2 linked regions of the Homo sapiens genome follow. Each later gene encodes a partner of the first gene's protein in a complex. Each region holds a gene or a part of one and is shown in the gene's direction. Other genes may lie near its edges.

Evidence for each region. The genes of interacting proteins can lie anywhere in the genome.
Region 2: VPS72 (region 1) and MORF4L1 share a complex: the UniProt entries of both Homo sapiens proteins name them as parts of the nuA4 histone acetyltransferase complex.

Annotation. Positions count from the first base shown.
Region 1 is NC_000001.11:151,186,769-151,195,432, reverse strand, and holds the start of VPS72 (vacuolar protein sorting-associated protein 72 homolog), read left to right. Parts: upstream 1-5,235; 5' UTR 5,236-5,311; coding exon 5,312-5,428; intron 5,429-8,664. UniProt on the Homo sapiens protein: Deposition-and-exchange histone chaperone specific for H2AZ1, specifically chaperones H2AZ1 and deposits it into nucleosomes.
Region 2 is NC_000015.10:78,882,141-78,890,594, forward strand, and holds part of MORF4L1 (mortality factor 4-like protein 1), read left to right. Parts: intron 1-2,826; coding exon of another isoform or gene 2,827-2,943; intron 2,944-4,000; coding exon 4,001-4,087; intron 4,088-5,128; coding exon 5,129-5,209; intron 5,210-8,454. UniProt on the Homo sapiens protein: Component of the NuA4 histone acetyltransferase (HAT) complex which is involved in transcriptional activation of select genes principally by acetylation of nucleosomal histones H4 and H2A.

The DNA of each region.
Region 1 (8,664 bases):
TGACGTGGCAGGGTGTGGAAACAGGGGCAGAGCAGGACATGTTGGCTTAGTGCCCCAAGGAAACAGAAAAGGGAGTTCACCAATACATACTTTGGGAAAGGGGGTACAATCTGATGACCTCAAAGTAGGGCCACAGGTACAGACTTCAGTACATGTGAGTACACACCCACACCTTTATTAAAGTGTCATTCATATCTTAGAACAGTTTCTTTATTTTATTTATTTATTTATTTTATTATTGTTTTTTTTTTGAGACAGAGTCTCCCTCTGTCGCCCAGGCTAGAGTGCAGTGGCGCGATCTTGGCTCGCTGCAACTTCCGCCTCCCGGGTTCAAGCGATTCTCCTGCATCAGCCTCCCAAGTAGCTGGGATTACAGGCACAAACCACCACGTCCGGCTAATTTTTTGTATCTTTAGTAGAGACAGGGTTTCACTGTGTTAGCCAGGATGGTCTCGATCTCTTGACCTCGTGATCTGCCTGCCTCGGCCTCCCTAAGTGCTGGGATTACAGGTATGAGCTACTGCGCCCGGCCAGAAAAGTTTCTAAGATTAGAATGAAGTGATGGGGACTGGCAAGAGCAAGGAAAGGATTCTACAATAAGAGGATGGGCTATTTATTCAATTAATCATTCATTAATTAATTCACTCAATTAACATTATTTAGCCCAAGCTACGTCCCAGGCACTATTAGAGTTCCTGGAATACACAGATGACCATTAAGCCCATCATCAGGCAGGATGGCTCACTCCTGTAATCCCAACACTTTGGGAGCTGAGGCAGGCAGATTGCTTGAGCCCAGGGGTTCAAGACTAGCCTGGGCAACATGGCAAAAATCCTATCTCTACAAAAAATACAAAAATTCGCTGAGCGTGGTGGTGCGCACCTGTAGTCACAGCTACTAAGGAAACTGAGATGGGTGGATCACTTGAGCCCAGGAGGTCAAGGCTGCAGTAAGCTAAAATTGCACCACTACTCTCCAGCCTGGGCGACAGAGCAAAACCATGTCTCCAAAACAATTTTTTTTAATTAAAAAAAGGAAAAGATTAAGCCCCTGCCCTCAAAAAGATCACAGACTAATGAGGGGAACAGACATGTGAATCATTAGAATACAATGTAATAGGTGCCATCATAAAGTTTGTGTAAGTGCTATGGTTTGATAACCATATTTTCAGAATAAAAAATGAGAACAGTCTTTACAACAGACAATATTTGAGATTGGAACTATTCCAGAGACTACAGAAGACATCATCTCCATAGTTATATGAATTGTGCCTGGAAAGAGAGGAATGGGTGTTCAGGAAGACTCCACTCTCCCATAAAATTAGAAAAGAAAGGAAAGGGATTCTAAGGAGAAAGAAAGGCATAGAGGCATGACAGAGAATTGGGTGTTAGGGGAGAGATGCTGGAGTAGTGATGTCGCAGGAGGTGTGACTAGAAGGACAGGGAGAGGCTAAATTATGAAGGATCTGAATACTGAATGCCATGTAGTAGTTACCACCTACTACACATTTACTATGCACTTACTAAACACTGTGCTAAGCAGTTGACAAGAATTATCTCTCTCTGTCTTTTTTTTTTTTTTTTTTTTTTTTTGAGACAGAATGTGGCTCTGTCGCCCGGGCTGGAGTGCAGTGGTGCTATCTTGGCTCACTGCAACCTCCGTCTCCTGGGTTCAAGCTATTCTCCTGCCTCAGCCTCTCGACTAGCTGGGACTACAGGCACCCGCCACCATGCCTGGGTAATTTTTATATTTTCAGTAGAGATGGGGTTTCACCATACTGGCCACGCTGGTCTCGAACTACTGACCTTGTGATCTACCCGCCTCGGCCTCCCAAAGTACTGGGATTATAGGCGTGAGCCATGGCACCTGGCCAATAATTATATCTCTTAATCTTCTACGACCTTAAAAGATAGGTATTATTATCAGTCCCACTTTGCAGATGAGAAAACTGAGATTCAGAGAAGTAAAGCAACTTGTCCAAAGTCATACAGCTAAAAGACCTTAAAGTTCACACTCAAATTCAGGTCTGGCTGGCTCTAAAGCTGTGTTCTCTTTTTGTTGTTGTTTTATTTTATTTTAATTTTTAATTGGCACATAATTGTACATATTTATGGGGCACATAGTGATGTTTCAATACATAAAATGTTTAGTGATCAGATCAGGATAATTAGTATATCTGTCATCTAAAAAATGTATCATTTATTTATTTATTTATTTTGAGATGGTGTCTCGCTCTGTCATCCAAGCTGGAGTGCAGTGGCACGACGTTGGCTCACTACAACCTCCACCTCCCGGTTTCAAGTGATTCTCATGTCTCAGCCTCCTAAGTAGCTGGAACTACAGGCACCTGCCACCACTCCTGGCCAATTTGCGTACTTTTTAGTAAAGACAAGGTTTCACCATGTCAGTCAGGCTTGTCTTGAACTACCGACCTCAAATAATCTGCCCACCTTAACCTCCCAAAGTGCTGGGATTACAGGCGTGAGCCACCGTGCCTGGCCTCACAAATATATAATTTATTTGTCTCCAGCACAAACATTCAATATCCTTCTTCTAGCTATTTGAAAATATTATTGTTAATCATAGTTATCCCCCAGTGATATAGAACACTAGAATTTTTTTTTTTTTTTTTGAGATGGAGTCTCACTCTTGTTGCCCAGGCTAGAGTGCAATGGTGCGATCTTGGTTCACTGCAACCTCCGCCTCCGGGGTTCAAGTGATTCTCCTGCCTCTGCCTCCTAGTAGGTGGGATTACAGGCACCCGCCAACGTGCTCGGCTAATTTTTGTATTTTTAGTAGAGATGGGGTTTCGCCATGTTGGCCAGGCTAGTCTCAAACTCCTGATCTAAGGTGATCTGCCCACTTCAGCCTCCCAAAGTTTTGGGATTACAGGTGTGAGCCACCACACCCGGCCAAGAACACTAGAATTTATTCCTCCTATCTAAATGTAATTTGGGGCCAAGCGAGGTGGCTCACACCTGTAATCCCAGCACATTGAGAGGCTGAGGAGTGGGGATCACTTGAGCTCAGGTGATCACCGTGGGCAACATGATGAAATCTCATCTCCACAAAAAGTACAAAAAATTAGCCAGGCGTGGTGACACGAGCCTGTAGTTCCAGCTACCCACGAGGCTGAGGTGCGATGATCACTTGAACCCAGGAGGTCGAGACTGCAGTGAGCAGTGATTGCATCACTGTATTCCAGCCTGGGTGACAAAGTGAGATCCTATCTCAAACAAACAAACAAACGAACAAACAAATGTAATTGGGGGCCAGTGTGGTGGCTCACAGCTGTAATCCTAGCACTTTTGGAAGCCAAGGTGGGAGGACAGCTTGAGCCCAGGAGGTCAAGGAGGCAGTGAGCCATGATCCTGCTGCTGCACTCCAGCCTGGGCAATAGAGACCCTGTCTCAAAAAAAATTGTAATTTTGTGTCTTTTTTTTTTTTCTTTTGAGATGGAGTCTTGCTCTGTTGCCAGGCTGGAGTGCAGTGGCACAATCTCAGCTCACTGCAACCTCTGCCTCCCGGGTTCAAGCGATTCTCCTGCCTCAGCCTCCCTAGTAGCTGGGACTACAGGTGCGCGCCACCACACCCAGCTAATTTTTGTATTTGTAGTAGATACGGGGTTTCACCATGTTGGCCAGGATGGTCACAATCTCTTGACCTCGGGATCTGCCCGCTTCAGCCTCCCAAAGTGCTGGGATTACAGGTGTGAGCCACTGTGCCAGGCCCAATTTTGTCTTTTTTTTTTTTCTGAGACGGAGTCTTGCTCTGTTTCCCAGGCTGGAGAGCAAATGGCGCGATCTCGGCTCACTGCAACCTCCGCCTCCCGAGTTCAAGCAATTCTCTGCCTCAGCCTCTCGAGTATCTGGGATAACAGGCGCCCACCACCACGACCAGCTAATTTTTGTATTTTTAGTAGAGATGGGGTTTCGCCATCTTGGCCAGGCTGGTCGTGAACTCCTGACCTCATGATCCACCCCCTTCGGCCTCCCAAAGTGCTGGGATTACAGGTGTGAGCCACAATTTTGTGTCTTTTAACAAATCTTTCCCTGTCCCTTCCTTCCCCCTGCTCTTCCCAGCCTCCAGTATCCTCTGTTCTTTCACTTCTATGAAATCAACTTTTTAAAAGCGTCACATATGAGTGAGAACATGCAGTGTTTTAACTTTCTGTTCGTGGCTTAAGTCAGTTAACATGTCCTCCAGTTCCATCCATGTTGCTGCAAATGACAGGATTTTCTTCTTTTTAATGGCTGAAAAGTATTCCATTGTGTATATACACCCTATTTCCTTTATTCATCTGTTGTTGGACACAGAGATTGATTTCCTATTTTGGCTACTCTAAGTAGTGCTGCAATAAATATGGGGGTGCATAAATATGGAGTGCAGACGTCTCTTGGATATACTGATTTCCTTTTTTTTTTTCCTCCTAAATTGGCTTCCTCAGGTTGAATTATGTCCTTTCCTTTGGATAAATGTCTATGGCTGTGTTTTTAACCACAATACTATGCTTCCTTCCTCAAGGATTTTTGACTTTATCTTGTAGATGATGTGGAGCCATTAAAAATGTTTGAGGACAGGAGTGGCAAAACGTGGGTTTTTAGAAAGTTTCCTACTAGCAGCAGTGTAGAAAATGGACTGGAGCGGAGAGAATGACCTCTTCTAAAAGAAAATGTGAGCTGGGGGCGCAGGCTTATGCCTGTAATCCCAGCACTTTGGGAGGCCGAAGCGGGCGGATCACCTGAGGTCAGGAGTTCGAGACCAGCCTGGCCAACACGGTGAAAGCTGTCTCTACTAAAAATACAAAAATTAGTTGGGCATGGTGGCGGGCGCCTGTAATCCCAGCTACTCGGGGGACTGAGGCAGGAGAATCGCTTCAGCCCGGGGGACGGAGGTTGCAGTGAGCCGAGATCGTGCCACTGCACTCCAGTCTGGCGACAGAGCGAGGCGAGACTCCGTCCCTACGGAAAAAAAAAACCATATATATATATAAAATAAAAATAAATAAAATAAAATGTGTTGACTTAGGGTTATGGGGGTCTTCGTACCACCAAGTGGACTCATTGAGCAAGGGAGATCGCTGGGTACTAGAGCAAGCGGCCTAGAGCATCCGCGCAGGAGTAGGAGAGGCTGAAGAGTAAAGAGGGTTTAGAGGGTGGGACTGGGAGTCTCTCGACACTCTGTTACTTCTGCCTGTAAACGCCCGACTTCCGCCGCTGGTGGCCACCCGCAGGTAGTGATGTCGAGCGTCGAGCTCCCAAAACCGAGCTGGTGAGGGGCTGCAGGTGGCGGCGCAGTCTCGGTAGGCGGTATGAGTTTGGCTGGGGGCCGGGCACCCCGGAAGACCGCTGGGAACCGGCTTTCTGGGCTTTTGGAGGCAGAGGAGGAAGATGAGTTCTACCAGACGACTTATGGGGGTTTCACAGAGGCAAGATCCGGGCCTGGGAAAAGGGAGGGGAGGAGGCAAAGAGGAGCCCTGAAGGGAGAAACCCCGGACAAAGAAGAAGAGGGCGGGGAATAGAGAGGAGCTCTGGGAGCTGATACTCGAGTTGGGTGGGTGAATCGGAGCCGGGGGGCGAGGCGGGGGAACGGATAGTGTGGAGTCCTAGAAGGGAGAGCTCTGGATGGGGTCAAAGGGGCCTGAGACGGAGAAGCTCTCCGGAGGCACTCCAGAGAACAGAGAACGGCAGAAACCTACCGTATACTTGCGTGGTTGCATCTTTCACTGTACTTCTGACGTCCAGCATACACGAGGCACACACATAGTAGTAGACAGTTGCTCGATGTATACTCGTTGGCCCACTGCTGGATTATTCACCTGAGACATGGAAAGGAACCGCTCCAAAAGTAGAGGAGCTTAGCCCACTTCTTTTTCAGCTTTCAGGTCTCAGTGTAAATGTTTTCTCAGGAAGATAACCCTTCCTTGACTATCCTAACAAGTGTCCCCATTTATTTCTTCCACAGAACATATTTCAATTTGCAATTAGATTTGGTTTGCTTACTTGCTTATGCTTTTCTATTGCATTGTAAACTGTATAAAGTTAGAGATGGTCTGTTTTGTTCAACATTATGTGTGAGGTGTCCGGACTGGGCTGCCACTTGCTAAATTTTTATTAGTTGAATCTACCCGTTTATTAAATGTGTTGAGTACCCAGAGCATGCCATCGGTAATAGGTTGTTTTAGGCTCTAGGGAAACAGAATATTAAAAACAGTGCTCTGTCCTTACATACTCCATGCCCCAGTGGGGTAACTGCCTGGGTTAACAGTTAAAATACTGTGTGATAGGCCGAGCACAGTGGCTTTGGCCGGGCACAGTGGCTCACGCCTGTAATCCCAGCACTTTGGAAGGCCGAGGCGGGTGGATCACAAGGTCAGGAAATCGAGACCATCCTGGCCAACATGGTAAAACCCCCTGTCTCTATTAAAATACAAAAATTAGCCAAGCGTGGTGGTGTGCGCCTATAGTCCCAGCTACTCAGGAGGCTGAGGCAGAGAATCGCTTGAACCTGGGAGGAGGAGGTTGCAGTGAGCCGAGATCGTACCACTGCACTCCAGCCTGGGCGACAGAGCAGGACTCCGTCTCAAAAACAAACAAAAAATGTGTGATAAGGACTAAAACAAGGTGTAAGAGTGTTAAGGTAATACATCTGAACCAAAGTTGTTGATCAGGATAGGCATCCCTGGAGGGATGATGTTTAAGCTGAGGACAGTTTGAAAAGTAGACCTTAGCTTGATGAAAAGCAGGAGAAGGAGAAAGGTTAGTCCACAGAGCAGGATGGGCTGAGTATGTAAAGACATTGAGATCCTGGTCTAGGACCTGCAAGTCTACTTTCATTCTCCAGAGCATGAAGGAGACTAAAGATTGATAAGCCTGCAGGGAGTAGGCATGGGCCAGATCCTTTAGGGCCTTGTGAGCTATGTTAAGGAATTTTGCTCTTCATCCAGAGGACTGAGAAGAGTCATCAGAATTCCACGATGAAATTTGTACTTTAGGAAGGTTACTTACTCTGTAATGAGAATGGCTTGAAGGGGGCATGGCAGTAGAGAAACAGAAAGATTCAAGAGAAATTAAGGAATAGAACCCACAGGACTTAGGGGCTGGGTGTGGTGGCTCACGCCTGTAATTCCAGCACTTTGGGAGGCTGAGGCGGGTGGATCACGAGGTCAGGAGTTCGAGACCAGCCTGACCAACATGGTGAAACCCTGTCACTACTAAAAATGCAAAAAATTAGCTGGTTGTGGTGGCGTGTGCCTGTAATTCCAGCTACTTAGGAGGCTGAGGCAGGAGAATCACTTGAACCCAGGAGGCAGAGGTTGCAGTGGATTGCGCCACTGCCCTCCAGCCTGGGCGACAGAGTGAGACTCTGTCTCAAAAAAAAAAAAAACCCACATCACTGACAGAGTCATTACTGACACAGCCCTAACCAACTAGTTTAAAATAGAACTTTCTCATCCCTCCTCTAAGGCCATTTTCCTATTTCTGTCATTTTACGACTTGTTATTTAATATGTACCCTTCATGCTTCCAAAAAGGATTTAAGGAGGCTTACAATATAAACAAAAAGTAGGAACAGTAAAAATAGAGACAGATCAGAAGTAATTGTACCAGGAACCTCTGCTAAAATGGTAATAGCAATTGATATTAAATTTAGTTGTGAGCTTCCTGGTAGCCAAACCTTGTATTTCTTTTTTTAGTAAGAAAGAAGCATACAAGTTCTTCAAGAGACACAAACTTTTTCAGCCTTAAATCCTAGGGAGCATTTATCATTATATCCTTATATTATAAAAAGTAATGGTTTTCATAGATGATATACAAACATTCTCTTTTCTAGTGATGTCTCTTAATGACTCTCAATAAAAGCCGAAGGAATGGTAGTAAATCCTTAATTTAGTGCAAGTATGTTGATTGGGCACTAAGCTAATGTGTGGTTGATCTACTACCCTCTGGTGATATGGCTTAATACCAGATTAAAGCTGAGGGGATTAATGTGTTCCCAGGCTGTCTTTTACAAACATCAGTTAGGAGGAAATGATGGTCATCAGTGCAAAATTGAACTCTGGCTGGCTTGGAGTGTCAGCCATCTGTGTTATTTGCTTGCTTTGGCATCATGTGTACCAAGATTAGCCCATTAGTCTGCATCACTGATTGAAGAGAGAACCACATATGTGAGGTGTCAGCCAGCCCAGTTGACTCCCTCTCCCTCAAGTGGCTTTTTTCCCTTTTCTTTATAATATGGCTGCCATTCTAGCCCTAACCAGTTCACCTGAGGTCTAGGCTGTACTTCACGTTCTCTACTCCAGGCCATCTAACTGCCCCCAGAGCTTTCTGAAATACCCATTGTACATACCATTACCCCTCCCCTAAATCTTCAGTGGCCCTCCATTATCCATAGTAGCAGTACTCAGCTGTTTTTCTGTCCCAACACGCCTGAGGAATGACACATATTTCTCTCAGTAACTTTAGTTTACCTCAACAATGATTATCAATGGTAGGGAAAATAAGGAGATGGAGGGGATTGAGAATCACTGGCCTGCAGGTTAAAAGCGTGTTTATTAGTGTGACATTTAAGTTTCTCCATAAATGGAATGCAACCTTCTTTTCAAATCATACAGTCCTACAGTGCAATCAGTGTTGGAAGGAGGCAGTGCTGGAGCCAAATGCAG
Region 2 (8,454 bases), on another chromosome or scaffold:
TTCCCAGTTAATGATAATTAAAGTATTTCTAATCAGTGAGGTGTGGTGGTGTGCACCTGTAGCTACTTGGAAGGCTGAGGCAGGAGGATTACTTGAGCCCAGGAGTTTGGGGCTGCAGTGAGCTATGATGTGCCACTGCACTCTAGCCTGAGTGACAGAGCAAGATCTGGACTCCTTTAAAAAGAAACAACAACATGTATTTCTAATAATGATAGGTAATATTTAATAATGATAGGTAACTCCAACCTCATGGACTTGTATTTTAAATATTGAGAAGTTGGGAAAATAATGGAGAAAACTGTCTTGGTAGAAGTAAACTGTGCTTTTAGTACTAAATGGATTCTAATATCTAGGAAACAGGAAAATAGTGACTCCTAGTGTATCTCATAGCTTTTTATTACTAAACAATGCCTTGCTAAAACTGCATTTCAATCTTTATTAGACTTATATTTTGTGTGTTGATATTCTGACAATATCCAGATAAAGTTGAGAGTGTTAGGAGAATTTCATTTCTCTACAGGAAAGATAACATCTTAATTTTATGCATACTATGAGTGGGAAAGACCATATAGGATATCAAAAAAAAACACAAAGCAAATTTATGGTTTAGGCTTAATCTCCTCCATCTCCTGCATTTTAAAGGAATTGTTTTAGAGCCAGTATGGTGGTGCCTATAGTTTTAGCTTCTTAGGGAGGCTGAGGTTGAGCCCAGGAGTTTGAGGCCAGCCTGGGCAACATAGGTAGACACCCCTCTTATAATTAAGCAAATAAAAATTTTAAAAAAGTGTTTGAGGCTGGGTGTAGTGGCTCATGCCTGTAATCTCAACACTTTGGGAGGCCAAAACGGTTGGATCATTTGAGGTCAGGAGTTCAAGTCCAGCCTGGCCAACATGGTGAAACCCCATCTCTACTAAAAATAAAAAAATTAGCCAGGTGTGGTGGCACACGACTGTAGTCCCAGCTGCTGGGGAGGCTGAGGCAGGAGAATCGCTTGAACCCAGGAGGCGAAGGTTGCAGTGAGCTGAGATTGCACCACTGTATTCTAGCCTAGGCGACAGAGTGAGACTCAGGAAAAAAAAAAAAAAAGCGATTGAACACATAAAAAACTAAGGGAAACTACGACAAGGGAATAGAATAAAGAAGATATTTTTAAAAACCTTAAAAAATTATTTTAGAATTTCACCTTAGTAACTGTGAATACAGCTTTTGTGCTTAGTTCTTTTTCACATATAATAGATAACCCTGTATAAAATTGCACACATAGATGTGTACAGCGCAAAGACTGGATTTTAAGTGGCATTTGTAGCTTGTCACAAGTTGTGAAAATACCAAATGCTTGTATTTTCAGATTTTATTGTTTCGAAAAATAATGGGCATTTTCCTCTTTGGTGTATTGTAGTCCAGTAACTCAAAGAAATGATAGGTTTGTGTAGATTTTTTTGTTCTCAACTAATTTGACACATATTAATTACTGTTGGGGAAAGTTAAGAAAAAATAGCATCAAATATTAGAGATTTGTTACTATCTTTGTAGATGTATTGAGGAATATTAATATATCAGAAATGTCTTTGGTTGACTTGGCATGTAGATAAATATATGCAATGTTGAAAGAATGATCTTAGCTTTAGAAAGTCTTTAAAGAAACCTTTAAATTCATTTTGAAAGGGGGAGGAGTTATTCAGATACCTAGTGTGTTGTGTATTTAGTCTATGTAAGTACTGCCCATGGATCATTGTGACTCTGGGAATTAGTCACATTACCGTTAGAAAACTATGAAATTCTGGGCCAGGCGCGGTGGCTCACACCTGTAATCCCAGCACTTTGGGAGGCCGAGGCGGGCAGATCACAAGGTCAGGAGTTCTAGACCAGCCTGGCCAACATGATGAAATCCCGTCTCTAGTAAAAATACAAAAATTAGCCAGGTGTGGTGGTTCATGCCTGTAATCCCAGCTAGTTTGTAGGCTGAGGCAGGAGAACTGCTTGAACCTGGGAGGCAGAGGTTGCAGTGAGCCGAGATCGTGCCACTGCACTCCAGCCTGGGCGACAGAGCAAGACTCCATCTCAAAAAAAAAAACAAAAAGCTGAAATTCTTGCCAGGCGCGATGGCTCATGCCTGTAATCCCAGCACTTTGGGAGGCCTAGGCAGGTGGATCACGAGGTCAGGAGTTCAAAACCAGCCTGGCCATGGTGGTGAAACTCTGTCTCTACTAAAAATTAGCTGGGTGTAGTGGCGCGCACCTGTAGTCCCAGCATTTTGGGAAGCCGAGGGTGGGCGGATCACCTGAGGCTAGGAGTTCGAGACAAGCCTGACCAACATGGAGAAACCCTGTCTGTACTAAAAATACAAAATTAGCTGGGCGTGGTGGCGCATGCCTGTAATCCCAATTACTCAGGAGGCTGAGGCAGGAGAATCGCTAGAACCCAGGAGGCAGAGGTTGTGGTGAGCCAAGATCACGCCATTGCACTCCAGCCAGGGCAACGAGAGCGCAACTCTGTCTCAAAAAAAAAAAAAAAAAAAATACACACACACACACACACACACACACAAATATCTCAAAAATAATCTCATTTTGAAAATGGCTTGTGCAGGGTACTTTTTAAAATTCGTACAACAAAACCTTAATCCCTAAATTGGAATTCTCTTAAACTTCAGTTAATCTTTTTTCAAAAACATAATAGATGATGGAGATTTCTAAATTTTCAAACCTCATTGGAATTTGTTGACACACACTTAAATACTCCATTTGTAAATGAATCTTAATAAAGCTGAGGCTCAATTCTGCACCTGGTCACTGAGATTACTTTGTACTATGCTGTCTGTATCAGAAGTGCTGTGAGGCCCAGGCGCTCTGAAAAATCTTTGAAGACACATGAGGATATTGTAGCCCTTTTTCCTGTTCCTGAAGGAGCTCCCTCAGTACACCACCCCCTCCTGACCTCTAGGTAAATGCATGTTTTGAAATTTTCTCTAGGAAATCATGTTCAGGATTGCTTTTTATTATTTTCCTCTTGGCTGTATTATATAAGAGGTCAGAGGTGGGAAATCATTAAACAAAAGAAAGTCTTAAATTTTTTTTTGTAATTGGGTGCCTTGAGAGTACACCTAATTGTGTCACTAAAGGAGCTCCATCAGCAGGAGAAAAGATTTACTGCTCAAAAAAAGTTAGCATTCCCTAAGAAATTACATTGTTTTTGTTTGCCATTTTGGGGGAAAAAACACATAATCAGAAATTGTGTTTTGAACAAGCTCTTTGAAGTGCCAGAATGTCTTAACATTTTTGAGAGAGTTGGTTCTGCCTTCTAATATTTAGAAAGCCAGCTTTCTGATCAGCCTTGAAAGTTATTAGTGTGTATTCATTTGTGACTGAATGAAGGTGGAGAATGGTGTCAAATCATTTTAATACTTTACAAACTTAAGTTAGTCTAGTTGGTGTTTGAGTATTGTAGACTTCCTAATATGTTTCTGACATACCTTTAGTGTTGTTTTGTGTCAGGGATTCTCAGGTGTTTTACATGTATTCTCATAACAGTTATTTGAGATAAGTACTGTTGTTATCCTCATTTCATAGAGAATGAAATGAAAACACAAAGCTATATGGAACTTTGTCATTACACACAGCTGGTTTTAATTTTTAAAAATAACTGAGTTTTTGACTCCTGTGCTTTATTTTTGACAATAAAAGTCTTTAAGATAACATAAGACTAATCACTTAGTGAATCTTACATTAAGTGCCAAACTCTTAAGCCATTTCTAAAAATGATTTGAATAATCTGCTTTTGGACTCTGGCAGCTTAGATTTGGAATGCTGCTTTTTGAAAATAAAAAGTTTTCCTTTTTACAGAACAGACTTCCATTAGATCTTCATTTTAGTTGAGAATATATTTGTAGTGCCAGTTCATCAAATTACTTAAGAGAAATCCAGTCTTGCCTCTTGATCTCAGAAAATTAGTTGGAGAACAGAGTATTTTTGAGTTAAATTTTAACTTTCCTCTTTTTCAGTTGGGATGAATGGGTTCCGGAGAGCAGAGTACTCAAATACGTGGACACCAATTTGCAGAAACAGCGAGAACTTCAAAAAGCCAATCAGTAAGTTTGTTTTGTGAACTGAATATTAAGGAGAAATGCCTGTAGATTAATTCTGGACATGGAATGAACAATGGAGATCATGTTGGCTGCCCTGCCTATAAAATGATTCCTGGTACCTTTCAGCTGCTGTGTTACAGCTTTGACTTCAAGCGATCAAGCCATATCTAGGTAAAGGAAGTAGCATACCTGCCATTACTTGAGCTTATCTTAGACCTAGGTAGAAAACAGCAGAATGTTGTTGGAAATTGCTATAGGTATGAACTCACTGATAAAAATCTTTATTTTCGGGGGCTCTGGAAGACAAATTTGGTGGGGAAACAAGCAAACGAGGCATTTCCTATTCTGCTTTTCATCTCTGAAAGCACGGGAAAAGGGACCCTGAAAGACTCTATGATTTATAGGGTAATCTCAAAGTTGAAATGTATTTTTAAAAAAATTAAAACGATGGCTGGGCGCAGTGGCTCACGCCTGTAATCCCAGCATTTTGGGAGGCCAAGGCGGGTGGATCACGAGGTCAGGAGATCAAGACCATCCTGGCTAACACGGTGAAACCCCGTCTCTACTAAAAATTCAAAAAATTAGCCGGGCATGGTGGCGGGCGCCTGTAGTCCCAGCTACTCCGGAGGCTGAGGCAGGAGAATGGCGTGAACCCGGGAGGCAGAGCTTTCAGTGAGCGGAGATCGCGCCACTGCAGTGTAGCCTGGGCAGCACAGTGAAACTCTGTCTCAAAAAAAAAAAAAAAAAGAATTAAAATGGTAATGGGAACAAATAAAACACTGGGATTAGTGAATTCCAAAACAAATGGAATTTTCAATGCTATGAGAACAGTCTATTACAGTCACTTTTTATTACATTGATTTTAATTGAGCCTTTTGCTGTTTCTTGAGTGTTTTGTTTGATTTTTGTGGAAATATCTCTGTCCAACTTGTTAAAAACTTGTTGCCAGAATTTGAATGTAAATTCCTAATGGAATCAGGCTGACAATTTTTTTTTCACATAAATGCTCATTTTATGTTGACATTACTGAAATTATTTTTGAAGGGAGCAGTATGCAGAGGGGAAGATGAGAGGGGCTGCCCCAGGAAAGAAGACATCTGGTCTGCAACAGAAAAATGTTGAAGTGTAAGAAGCTCTTTGTTTTGATTTTGCATACTATATGTGAAGATAATATTTTATGTTCATTGTGTGTTAGACTGTGTTGAAGTGGAAACTTTGGAACATTGTTGGAACCAGTAAGAATCCCATTCCTCAGGTATCAGGTCGTTAAAGTAGTTTAAAATAACGTATTCCTTAATTTTCCTCAGCAGGTTCCCCCTCCCTTTAACTTGTGTGTATAAATATATGTGTGTGATGTTTTCTCTTACAAAGATAGTACTAGTGGTTATAAGTTTTGAGATAACTTTTGGCAAGCCTTTTCAAACCTAAAAAGCAAGTGCTGGCAAGTGCTAAAAATACATACGAATTAACCTCCACTTTGGTGAAACTCATGGTAAGAATATGTGAGAAGTTAAGGTTTCAAATAACTGCCCTCCTCATCCCCACCCCTAAGAAAACCATTGCTTTTTTTTGAGACAGAGTTTCCCTCTTGTTGCCCAGGCTGGAGTGCAGTGGTGTGATCTGTGCTCACTGCAACCTCTGCCTCCTGGGTTCAAGTGATTCTCCTGCCTCAGCCTCCCAAGTAGCGGGGATTACAGGCGTGTGCCACCACGCCTGGCTGATTTTTGTATTTTTAGTAGAGATGGAGTTTCACCATGTTGGTCAGGCTGACCTCCTGACCTCAGGTGATCCACCTGCCTTGGCCTCCCAGAGTGCTGGGATTATAGGCGTGAGCCACTGCTCCTGGCACAAAACCATTACTTCTTGTTAACTCTAGATTTTAGAACATCTGATAAGAAGCCTAGAGTGAGAAAGTCATGTGCATGCATACATTTTGTATGTTTAAAGTTTATGTAGGACGGTGCGGTGGCTCACACCTGTAATCCCCCTACTTTGTTTGGGAGGCTGAGGCAGGAGAATGGTTTGAGCCCAGGAGTTTGAGACCAACTTGGGCAACATCGGGAGCCTCTGGTTCTACAGAAAAATAAAAAAATTAGCTCGGGGGTGGTGGCACATGCTTGTAGTCCCACCTATTCAGGAGGCCGATGTGGGAGGGTCACTTGAGCCCAGGAGGTCAAGGCTGCACTTTAGTCTTGGCGACTGAGTGAGATCCTGTCTTTTAAAAAGAAAAAAAAAAAAGTTGATGTACCTGAAAGTGGATGACAAGAGTGGTAACTTAATAAGTATTCTTAAGTATTTGTAATAATAAAAACAAAAATTATAACTTTTATTAAGAGGTCATTTTATTTCCTACCAGAATTACTGATCTGATTTTTCTACTTAAAAGTAAGGTGTTACACCCAGTGCTTTGGGAGGCTGAGGTGGGAGGGATTGCTTGAGGCCAGGAGTTCTAGGCTGCAGTGATCTGTGATTGCACCACTGCGCTCCAGCCTCTTAAAAAAAGTAAGGTGTTACTAATGAAGGTATTTAGTATTTAATGCATTTGGAGATGTTTGAAGCTTTTTATTTTTTTTTAAACTCTTTTTGGTGAGAAGATAATTGGCAAGGATTAAGTGTGTTACTATTTGAGGATTGTTCATAGTTTTAATAAGTGGTAACATGTTTTCATGATCTGGTTCTTTGGAAAACTGTAGTGTAGTATTTCATTAGGATTTAATAGTAATTATGTCTTAAAAGGCAGTAATTTTCTCTATATAGAAAAGATTTTTATCAAAAGTAATAGTTCATAACTAATTCTTTATCACTGTGCTAAGTTATTATATAGAAATCTTAAGTGGTAGTATGCCCATAAGTTATTTGCATTTGAATACAGCATTGTGCAGTCTCCACTACAAAAATAATGGCTGAGTAAATATATGAAGTAAAGCTTTAAAATTTAAATTTCCCATTCTTGAACAGTAGAAGCCTCTTCAAACTGGCTTCTGAGTCTTTTGAAGGATCCTCAGTCTAGACGTTTGAAGCATGAATGTCAAGCTCTTACTACTAGGACTTATTGAAGTGTATGGGTTGAATATCCCTTATCTGAAGTGTTTCGGACCAGAAGCGTTTCAGATTCCAGACTTTTTTTGGATTTTGAAATGTTTGCGTTATACTTACCTGTTGAACATCCCAAATCCAAAATGCTTCAATGAGCATTTCCTTTGAATGTCATGTTGGCTCAGAAAATTGGGATTTTTGGAGCATTTTGGCTTTGGGATGCTGAACTCATCTATATTTTATAGATCTTTTACTTTAGAGTTGAGATCACCTGTCAGTATTTTAGTTTTATATTACAGAGGTGAGTGGGTAAAGGATTGAGTGTGAAGACTATTGGTTTCTCTTGGTCTCCACATATTGACACGTGCAAGTAAAGTTCATGGTTGACTTTGACCGAGAAATACAGTCCAACAGATTTTTACAAAACTAACAGACAAGAGAAAACCTATACACAGATTTTTGTGTTTATATCCAAACATAAGTTAATTTGAATTGTCAAACCTTAAGACCTAAATTAAATGAATATATTTAATTAATAACATTTATAAGTATTATTTAAAGCTACAGAAAAGTAAAAAATCCAGGTGTTATAGTATCTTTCCATCGAAAGTAATCCATAATCATGGGCTCTATAAACTGTTTCCTTTGTGGTCTAGAAATAATAATGTAAAAAAGCAAAATTAGGCCAGGCATGGTGGCACACGCCTGTAATAGCATTTTGGAAGGCCGAGGTATGCGAATCACTTGAGGTCAGGAGTTTGAGACCAGCCTGGCCAACATGGTGAAATCCCGTCTCTTAAAATACAAAAATGAGCTGGGAGTGGTGGTGGGTGCCTATGGTCCCAGCTACTTGGAAGGCTGAGGCAGGAGAATCGCTTGAACCCGGGAGGAGGAGGTTGCAGTGAGCCGAGATCACCCAACAGACAGAGCAAGACTCCATCTCAAAATAAATAAATAAAGCAAAATTAGCAATTTACCATTTGACAGTATATAAGTGACGTGAGGTAAGTTGCTGTTAGAGATGATAATCAAGATGAGGAGACTTAAAACAAAAAAATTACACAAATCTAAAAATATTTTGGGGAACAAAAATAATTGGAAAAAAATTTTAACCTTTGACACCTTTTTTTTTTGGTGGGCCTAATAATGTAGTATATACTATAACATATATTAATATAACCCTGGAAGAACGAAGTTGTTTACTAAAGTGTTCTTGGTTTGCTTTTCTTTTTTTTTTGTCTTTGAGACAGGGTCTCTGTCACCAAGACTGGAGTGCAGTGGTGCAATCAAGGCTCACTGCAGCCTTGGCCTCCTGGGCTCAAGCAATCCTCTCA